Regions from separate parts of the Homo sapiens genome. Here region 1 is linked to region 2. The links come from fine-mapping of genetic effects on gene expression. A gene starts in region 2. The other region holds a variant in brackets. All regions are shown on one strand. Distances are from middle to middle. Region 1 overlaps LOC105374946 (a long non-coding RNA gene). Region 2 holds the start of JARID2-AS1 (JARID2 antisense RNA 1).

Region 1 (5,380 bases), 83 kb after region 2:
CGAGCTAGAAAAGACCCAGTGACTCTTGTTTTTTTGTTTTGTTTTGTTTTGCTTTCTCTTTGAGATGGAGTTTCATTATTGTTGCCCAGGCTGGAGTGCAGTGGTGCAATCTCGGCTCACAGCAACCTCCGCCTCCCGGGCTCAAGCATTTCTCCTGCCTCAGCCTCCCAAGTAGCTGGAATTACAGGCATCTGCCATTACGCCTGGCTAATTTTTGTATTTTTAATAGAGATGAGGTTTCCCCATGTTGCCCAGGCTGGTCTCAAACTCCTGAGCTCAAGGGATTTGCCTGCCTTGGCCTCCCAAAGTGCTGGGATTACAGGCGTGAGCCACTGTGCCCAGCCTCAAAGTGGATCTTAAAGCAGAGGCTGATACACGTTTTTAACTTGCACATTTTGGGTTTTTTTTTTTTGAGACAGAGTCTCACTCTATTGCCCAGACTGGAGTGCAATGGCGTGATCTCGGCTCACTGCAGCCTCTGCCTCCCAGGTTCAAGTGAGTCTCCTGCCTCAGCCTCCCAAGTAGCTGGGATTACAGGCATGAACCACTACACCCAGCTAATTTTTGTATATATATATTTTTTAATAGAGATGGGGTTTCACCATGTTGGTCGGGCTGGTCTTGAACTCCTGACTTTGTGATCCGCCTGCCTCGGCCTCCCAAAGTGCTGGTATTACAGGCGTGAGCCACCGCACCTGGCCACATGTTGGTTTTTTAATATACCATTTACCCTGTGAAAAATGGTCACTTATCTTGAAGATGTTGTATTCACTTAAGACTCCCACTAGAGTGGCCACGGGAATATTGTTCATGAATTTGTGGCAGAATGAGACTCATCAATAGCTTGCCTAATAAATTAAAAGGATACCCAATATCTGCCTTAAACCCACAAAGGAATATAAATTTGCAGCAAGAGATCAAGACTCTAATGAAGGCAGCAGGAGACGGCTTTAAAGACAATTCCCTGTTGCAACTTGATGATGAAAATCAGTCTTAACTGTGCATTTAATTTCTTTTGTGGGTTCAAAGCAGATCCCTAAAGTTTTATTCGAGGAAGGTTAATCATGATAGTCTTTGGAGCCTATAATGCTTCTAATATTGGGTAGAGTGAGTAAAAGATATTTGTGTGAATAATATTTTGCCTTTTTAAAGTTAGGTGTTACGTAGAAAAAAAGAACCTGCAAAAATACTATCTTTGTAGACATCTTTGAAGAAATAAATGTGGGAAAAGATGTAGGATTCATTAATACACAGCATTTATTTGTAAAAAATGCCTTCCTAACTTTCCACAAATCCCATATTTCCTAAGCAAAATTCTATATGTTAAATATGGAAAGGAACCTTTTTAAATAAAAAGGAAATAAGGGTGGCCAGGCACGGTGGCTCATGCCTGTAATCCCAGCACTTTGGGAGGCTGAGGCGGGCAGATCACATCAGGTCAGGAGTTCAAGACCAGACTGGCCAACCTGGCGAAACCCTGTCTCTACAAAAATACAAAAATTAGCTGGCATGGTGGTGTGTGCTAGTAATCCCAGCTACTTGGGAGGCTGAGGTGGGAGAATTGCTTGAGCCCGGGAGGCAGCGGAGGTTGCAGTGAGCTGAGATTGCGCCATTGCACGCCAGCCTGGGTGACAGAGTGAGACTCCATCTCAAAAAAAAAAAAAAGGAAATAAGGAAAGGAAAGAAGAGCAACACCAAAACTTTTTCCTTGATGAGGTGGTAGAGACCTATTTAATGCAGAACAACATTTTAGAAGTCCATGCCAGGTGCATAAAATTTGTGCACCCTTCCTTTCCTTTTTCTCATTGATTTCCCTTTTGGTCCTTCTCGGTGCCTTTCAGGAGTGGCTTAAATTGTCAAATACACCATAATTCATGAGTGTTTATCTTTGATTCCACATCCCCCTCACCCCAATCCCACATCTTCAATTCTTTTTCTTAGAAGCAGAGTCTTGCTCTGTTGCCCAGGCTGGAGTGCAGTGGCATGATCAGGGCTCACTGCAGCCTTGACTTTCCAGGCTTCTGTGATCCTCTCAGCTCAGCTTCCCAAATAGCTGGGACCACAGGCGCACACCACCATGTCTCGCTAATTTTTATGCATTTTCTTTTTTTGTAGAGATGAGGTCTTGCTATGTTGCCCGGGCTTCATCTTCTACTCTTGCTTCCTCTTTATTTCTCTCTAGCTCTAAGCCAGAAGTCGTTCTACTTCACTGTGCATAAGGATCAAATGAGAATTTGAGTTAGAAATTCAGTGATTTCTGGGCCGGGTGTGGTGGCTTATGCCTGTAATCCCATCATTTTGGGAGGTCGGTTTGGGCGGATCACTTGAGGTCAGGAGTTTAAGATCAGCCTGGCCAACATGGTGAAACCCTGCCTCTACTAAAATACAAAAATTAGCTGGGCATGGTGGTGCACTCCTGTAATCCAAGCTATTCGGGAGGCTGAGGCTAGAGAATTGCCTGAATCCAGGAGGCGGAAGTTGCAGTGAGCCAAGATCGTGCCACTGCACTCCAGTCTGGGTGACAGAGTGAAACTCCGTCTCACACACAC[A/T]CAAAAAAATAAAAATAAAAATAAAAAAAATTAAAAAAAAAAAAAAAGACGAAATTCAGTGATTTCTGTGTTGACATCCAGGAATCGTGAGTTTTGCCAAACATCCTAAGTATTGCTGTTGTAGGTGTTGAGATATACTATTAGGTTATGGAGTAAGACTTAAACTATCACCAGGGTATTTTCATTTTATTAAGAGAACAATGATTCTTTAATTGTAGAATTACAGGCATCAGTAATCCTTGTGGCTAGAGGGTTTCTTCCGAGGAGGAGCTTAGACTCCTGACAGATCCTATTGTAAGGCCCCAGTTCTCCCTTCCCTTCTGGCTCCCTCTTTACCCCTACTAATTAACGGAAGCACTGGGGGTGCGATAGGGGGTGGGGCCGCTGAGGTCTAAGGGTTTCCAATCAGTCTGTGGTTTAGAATTCAAGGGCTCGGAGAGTCAATGTTCATCATTCTTTGGTAGATGACTTTTCATCTTTGTTAGGCTTTGAAATTTTAACATAAACTGAAAAGTAATCAAAATCTGTATTCAGCACTTGCCTTACATACAAGAAGTTCCTTCTGTAACCTGAGTTAAAGAGAATTGACTTGGTTTTCAAAAATGGCTCCATCCGTCAACATAGCTGAAATTCTACCATTACAAATGATGGCCTTTGGACCCTGGAAAATTGTTAGGCCTCGAAAGTCTAACAATTGATAATGCATACACTTCTAGGTCAATATCACCTTAAACTGGAGCCAGTGAACATTTTGGTGGTAGTCTAGGATGATTGGAATTGGGACCATAAAAAGTGGGAAAGAATAGGAGAAAGAGAATTCTTATTGACTCTGAACACATAAAGAAATAAAATATTTAAATTAAAATTGGTTCATACCTGTAATCTCAGCACTTTGGGAGGCCGACGTGGGTGGATCACTTGAGGTTAGGAGTTCCAGACCAGCCTGGCCAACATGGTGAAACCCTGTCTCTACTAAAAATACAAAAATTAGCCGGGCATGGTGGCACATGCCTGTAATCCCAGCTACTCAGGAGGCTGAGGCAGGAGAATCACTTGAACCCAGGAAGCAGAGGTTGCGGTGAGCAGAGATCATGCCACTGCACTCCAGCCTGGGGAACAGAGTAAGACTCTGTCTCAAAAAAAAAAAAATTAATTAATTAAAACAAAAAATAAAAATAAAAAAGAAAGAGTGGCTCTTTGGATGAATCTCATACAAACTCTGAGAAACTCCTGACTAGGCACAGTGGCTCATGCCTGTAATTCCAGCACTTTGGGAGGCCCAGGTAGGTGGATCACCTGAGCTCAGGAGTTCAAGACCAGCCTGGCCAACATGGTGAAACTCCGTCTCTACCAAAATTACAAAAATTAGCCAGGCGTGGGCAAGCGCCTATGGTCCTAGCTACTTCGGGGGCTGAGGCTGGAAGATCCCCTGAGCTAGGGAAGCAGAGGTTGCAGTGAGCCAAGATTGTGCTGTTGTACTCCAGCTTGGGCGGAAGAGTGAAACTGTCTCAAAAAAAAAATGCATGTTTATTCTACATGTTTTCTTTTTTTCAAGCAAGAGATCAGGTAATCTTTTCTGATATCAATATACAATAAGAGAACAGCAGATATATTTAGTATGATGTAATACATATTGAAATCAATTACAAATGTCAGTTTTATTTATTTATTTATTTATTTATTTATTTATTTTTATTTTTTATTTTATTTTATTTTTTTTTTTGAGACGGAGTTTTGCTCTTGTTACCCAGGCTGGAGTGCAATGGCGCCATCTCAGCTCACCGCAACCTCCGCCTTCCAGGTTCAAGCTATTCTCCTGCCTCAGCCTCCTGAGTAGCTGGGATTATAGGCATGTACCACCACGCCCAGCTAATTTTGTATTTTTAGTAGAGACAGGGGTTTCTTCATGTTGGTCAGGCTGGTCTCAAACTCCTGACCTCAGGTGATCCCCCCGCCTCGGCCTCCCAATGTGCTGGGGTTACAGGCCTGAGCCACCGCACCCGGCTACAACTGTCAGTTTTAAATATTAATGTCTATTGTACCAAATTTGGGATCTCAGGAGAAAGTATTCAACATAATTTAAAATGCCGAGGCTGGGCTTGGTGGCTCACGTATGCAATCCCATCATTTTGGGAGGCCAAGGTGGGCGGATCGCTTGAGTTCAGGAGTGCAAGACCAGCCTGGGCAACATGGTGAAACCCTGTCTTTACAAAAAATACAAAAATTAGCTGGGCATGGTGGCACGCGTGCCTGTGGTCCTAGCTACTTGGGAGGCTACGGCAGGAGAATCACTTGAGCCAGGGAGGCAGAAGTTGCCGTAAGCCAAGATGGCGCCACTGCACTCCAGCCTGGGTGGCAGGAGTGAAAGAAACCCTGTCTTAAAAACAAAACGAAACAAAAATATGAAATTATTATAGAAAAGGATATTTTCAGGATAGAAGTGTGTATTTGAGTCATGCAAGTTGTACTCAATTATGCTGAAGCTGTAAAAGACTCTGAAAATGATCTCCTATTGGACATTTATAGAAATAACTTCTTTGAGGAGTCACAGATAGCCTTTATTTTTCTCTCTCTATTCTCTCTTTCTCTCTTTCCTAGGTCAGTAAATTTTCTCTTTTTTTTTTCTTTTTTTGAAACGGAGTCTCGCTCAGTTGCCCAGGCTGGAGTGCAGTGGCACGATCTCGGCTCACTGCAAGCTCCACCTCCTGGGTTCACGCCATTCTCCTGCCTCAGCCTCCCAAGTAGCTGGGATTACAGGTGCCCGCCACCACGTCCGGCTAATTTTTTGTACTTTTAGTAGAGACGGGGTTTCACCGTGTTAGCCAGGATGG
Region 2 (5,380 bases):
GGATCTCAGCTCACTGCAACCTCCGCCTCCCAGGTTCAAGCGGCTCACTGCAACCTCCGCCTCCCAGGTTCAAGCGGCTCACCGCAACCTCCGCCTCCTGGGTTCAAGTAATTCTGCTGCCTCAGCCTCCCGAGTAGCTGGGATTACAGGCATGCGCCACCATGCCCGGGTAATTTTTGTATTTTTAGTAGAGACGGGGTTTCACCATGTTGGTCAGGCTGGGCTTGAACTCCTGACCCTCATGATCCGCCCACCTCAGCCTCCCAAAGTGCTGGGATTACAGGCATGAGCCACCACGCTCTTTTTCACACTGTTTCAAGGTTGACATAATACTTAACTGTAATTACAATAATAAGCCCAACTGGAATAACCAGATTTGGGAACAAACAACTGACACTTGGCAAGACTTCTGGGTGAAAGCCAAAGGGGACAGAGGTACATCCCAGAGGTGGCCAGGACCTGTATCCTGGGATATCAGTCAGGACATACTGCAGCCAACAGGGCAAGCAGGATGGGTAGACAAAAGGTGGTTAGTAGAGCTGCTACTACTGTAATCCTGGGGGAGACGTGGACCAGTAACATCAGGATGATCAGAGCAATGCAGCCAGAATTCAGACAATGTCAGGAGTGTGAGTCCTCACACCATCATGAGCAAGGGCAAACCACTAGCTTAAAAATGTTCAGCTGGCTGGGTGCAGTGGCTCACGCCTGTAATCCCAGCACTTTGGGAGGCCAAGGCGGGCAGATCACCTGAGGTCAGGAGTTCAAGACCAGCTAGGCCAATATGGTGAAATGAAACTCCATCTCTACTAAAATACAAAAATTAGCCGGACATGATAGGGGGTGCCTGTAATCCCACCTACTCGGGAGGCTGAGACAGGAGAATCGATTGAACCCGGAAGACAGTGGTTGCAGTGAGGAACCACTGCGTTCCAGCCTGGGTGGCTGAGCAAGACCCTGTCTCAAAAAAAAAAGGAAACAAAAAAACAAATGCTCTCTAGGTTAGCCTTCACCAAGTGTTTTAACGAACTACGCTTTTAATATGACATTCTCGTGTCTTCTCTGAAAAAAAAAAAAAAGTTCCATTTTGAAGGTAACAGACACCAATTATATACTCCAAAAGATTGTCTTGTTCTGAAGGAGGAAAGTTTAACATTTGGAGTACGGTATATATTAACACTGGAGTTATTTCCAAGGCACTTGGAAGTGCGTCAATAGCCTTCAGCCCAGCAACAGGGACTGGTTTAACCCACTATGAGGAAACAGGCATTACCGAGTACCAAATAATTCTAGTTGTCTATTTGGGCCAGTGGCTACAGGGACACACAAGTTAGGTATTAGCCTACTGTAAAATAATATAACCTGGATAATAAACCAAGTTGGATTACTTGTCGACATAATTTTTCTTTCAAATTTTAGTGACACTTTGGACTTCATTGTGTCTTCCTTCCATACTGTCCCTGTACAGTGATAGGAGCTAAACTGCCACTGCCCTGCACCTAAGTAACACAGAGCAAGATTTTCCACTACTAGAAACAAGTAACTGAAAAGCCACGTAAACATCCCAGGAAAGAAAAAATACAGCAATAAAATAACGTGCAAATTTCCCCACCACCCCACCAACTGTAAAATAACGTGACTGAACAATTTGTGATGAATAAGTTTTAAAACAAAAAACCTCATAAATCCAACCACTGTATATTTTGTGTTCTTCCTACTTTTTTCTTTGTAATTTTACGTAGTTGTAATTATAGTAAATCCTTTTGAAGCTTATAACAAAAACTTTTTCCAATTTTTAAATCATACACTTTCAAATCAGAAAATTAGATACTTAAAACTTACAGCCTAGTGGTACAAATTCTGCTTGAGCTGTCCTAGAAAATCAAACTGGCAATTTGTTTTCATGCTAACTACAGGAATTACTATCTTCATAAGGCAGAGATTCTCTATTTCAAACTGATACCTGATCAAATAGTGGTGAAGCCCCAGTATCCTATCTGTTATTCTCCCTAGGAATAACCAGGCAGTGGAATGATGGAAACGGCAGAAAATATCTCTAGAGCAAAACATGCAACTGTTTTTATTGTCCAAGTCGATTGGGGCTTTCAAAGGCAAATGTTTTCAGTTATTTAAGGTATTGCAGTGGGAGTCGTGCTCAACACAATTAAGACAGGATTACACTGCAACTTATGAGTTTCTCAAGGACATCATTTATTACGAAATATAACAATCATTTCTCCCAAAGCCTACTATCGACAATCGCACCCCCAACTCTGCTTTGCTAAGGTAATAAACTAAATGGCAACTCAGCAGGCATCCCGGGCTTTTGAGACCAATTGTGGGAAACGTGCTGCCTTCCACCAGCTCAAGTAATAATGCCACCTTACTTATAAAGAGGCATACTGTTTTACATCTTCCATGCACATGATCTTTTCAGTGACTTAGTTAAGTGGCAATGGCAGGTATTTTTCCATTTTACAAAAGAGAAAACAGAACGCCAGCCTCTGGTTTCCCTGCTCAGAAGAACTAAGCCCAGAGCACCTTGAGACTTAAAGGAGTCCTGTGCTCTTCTCAGTACATTTATCAATGACAAGTCTTCCTTTGGTCCAGCCCCCCAAAATAACAGTCAGTAGGTACAGAGCCGGCACAGCAAAGGAAAGCCCCCCCACCGTAGTACCACAAAGCTTCCAGAAAGAGCAACAGTTGCTGCTGTGCAGCATCATCATGAAAGGCATCCGGCCACATCCTGCTGAAGCACCCCTAACACGACTTCAAGTGACAAGGTGGCCAAATCCACAACGCGGTCCTCCAACAAAGCACAGCTTTCCCTGAATACTTTCATTTCTTTACATAAGCACTGGAGAGGGGACACATGCACCACGCTAGTAATGCAACACCATCAGGAGACCTGGAACAGAGGAAGTGAAAACATTCCTGCAGAAAGGAGGCGCCTCCTCCCCGCTCCCCGCTTCCCAAGTGGCATCAGAACAGGGTCCAGTGGCACTCCTTTGGGGACCTACGGCTCCCCGGCCCTCACCTGGTGGGAAGCGCGACGCTCCGGAGCGGAAGGCAGAGGCCGAGCGCATCTTCCTCCTCTTCCTCCTCCCACGCCGCAGCCCGGCTCTGCGGCAGCCCCCGCCCCCGCCCAGCTCCCTCCTCCCCCCGCCGCCCCGCCGCGCCTGGAGCCTCCCGCCCGACTTTTGACGTCACGGAGGAGGAGGGGAAGGTTCCACCCGAGCCCGTCCCTTTGTGACGTCACAATGACAACAGAGTGCGGCCGGGAGCGTCGGGGAACCGAGCGCCGCGGGGGGCGGAGGGAGGGAAGAAGGGCTGGGGCGCCGGCGCGCGGCGGGGGAAGAACCGGGGGGCGGAGAGGGGGCGCGCTGACGTCTCGCCGGCTTAACCTGTTGCTCTCGAGACTGCGTCGGAGCCCGCAGGCAGGGCCGCGGGAAGCCGGCCGGGCCGCCGCCGCCATGCTCGGCCGTGTGCGCGGTGGGGGGCGCCCGCTGCAGCTGTGCGCCGCGCGCCCCCTCCCCGGCACGCCCACGCCCCCGCCCCCGCTCCCACCCCCTCCCCGCGCGCTCTCCCCTCCCCGCGCCCCGCAGGCCGCGCCACCCCCGCGCCCCACCCGCCCTCCTGCCCGCCTGCAAGCCGGCCCGGGTAGACCGGTGCCCGCCTCGCGCGCCCGCCTAGAGCCCGGAGTATGCCCCCTATAGGCCGCGCGCGCGCGCCCGCCCGCCCAGCCCCGGCCCAGCCTGCCGCGACCCCCGCGGGCCGTCCCTTTCGCAGCCGGCTCGAGGACGTCGGGAACACCGGCTCTGCTCCCGGTGCATTAACTCGTGCCGTGCCTCCCGCAGCCGCCGCCAGCCACGGGCTTGCAGCCGGACGCCCGGACTCGGAGACACGATCCGCTGAACGCCCGCAATAAGAAAGAAAACCCACCCCACGCTGCTCTCCACCTCAACGAGGTCCGGAATGGGAGGCGGGGTGCGGTTCTCGTCCAAGTTCTACCCCATTTGCTTTGTGGCTGCATCCGAAACGGACGTGCCCCGGGAAGGCGTCCACGCTCCAAGACAAGGTTGCCTCAGTGCAGTTTCTACAGCCCGAGTTTAAACTAGTCCTTTGCATTCTACCCAGCCCTCTGCAATGCGGATGTATTTTAATTCTTAAATTCTTTATGGAACAGCTTTCTAAGTTGGGCTTGATTATTTAACCTTGCATTTCTTTCATAGTTGAAGTTGACGTGTCTAGATAAGGATCAGCTCTCTTGAAGAGGCATTCAGCTTTTCCATTAAATATATTTTTTTACAAAACCAGTGCCCCGAAGGTCATCTCTCATTACACACACCACAATGATCAAAAAGGGAAAATATTAACACCAATTTGTCTACCCAACTTAAATAAACTTTCCTCTTACGTTGCATTATTCCTAAGGTATGTTCATTTGGCCTTTTTTGAAAAAAAAAAAGAGTTATTTAATTTAAAGCATGCAGCTAATCACAGATCACTCGAGTGCATATTTGGTTAATCCCTCGGTCCCCCTTTCCTCCCTCCCCTCAAACTTAAAAAAAAAAAAAAGCCACCACACACAAAACAAAAACACTCCCCATGCCAATCAAAACGTAGCTGTACTATGCACAAAACAAATTTAACTATTCCAAGCCATTTAAATCTAGGAATAATCACCCAATTTCAGAAGCCCAGTTAACAGGGAGAAATTATTTGTAGTTACTTACATATGCATTCACGTACACACTTAAAAACATTAGCCATAGTGTGTGTCCTTTTCCCCTACAACTGGAAACCATGAATTTTTTAAACAAAACCAGCCTCATTATTAAAGTCAATCCCAACAAATGCATTCGCTGTAACATGATTCCCAACTGGTTTATGTTGCAAACCAGATAAGCCAAAACGACCACAGACATTAAATTTGATGTGCCAGTGCAAAGAGAAGATCGCCATAATCGGACCCTCGATCGCAACTTAAAGGGCTTCCAACACACATGCGTTACACGATTTTTCCAAATAACATTAATAATAATAACACAGGCTCATTTGCATGCAAAGTGCAATACGGGGCCAAATCCGCTTGAGAATGCAGTTTAGTTACATTACCGCAGCCACCCCCCACCTCAAGCTCCACCAAAATCCCTTGCCTTTCATCTAAAAGTAGATTATGGTTGTGTCATTCGAGGTCAATTTATTCACTTGAGGTATCTCTACACCAGTCTGTTTTTTCAACCAAACTAGGCAGACACCACTTTGCTTGAAAAGCCCTCTTTCAGAAAAAAAAGAAACAGCCTTATCGGACGCTGTGTTTAAAACCCTTCAGAGGCAGAATTATCTATAAACTTGACATTCACAGCCATTGCTTAAA

The links.
Region 1: its variant is fine-mapped to the expression of JARID2-AS1 in whole blood (INTERVAL, PIP 0.94).

Annotation. Positions count from the first base shown.
Region 1 is chr6:15,163,826-15,169,205 of GRCh38, reverse strand. The region is part of intron 1 of LOC105374946 (a long non-coding RNA gene); the gene reads left to right. Among named protein-coding and RNA genes, the nearest start is that of JARID2-DT, 79 kb to the left of the region's middle. The variant A/T (reference allele first, on the strand shown) is at 2,550.
Region 2 is chr6:15,246,622-15,252,001 of GRCh38, reverse strand. It overlaps JARID2-AS1 (JARID2 antisense RNA 1), which reads left to right and starts at 3,306. Exons shown (of 2, transcript NR_120502.1): 1 at 3,306-3,492; 2 at 3,858-4,187. The region is part of intron 1 of JARID2 (jumonji and AT-rich interaction domain containing 2); the gene reads right to left. RefSeq lists enhancers at 1-362, 2,051-2,892 and silencers at 3,081-3,560, 3,681-3,740.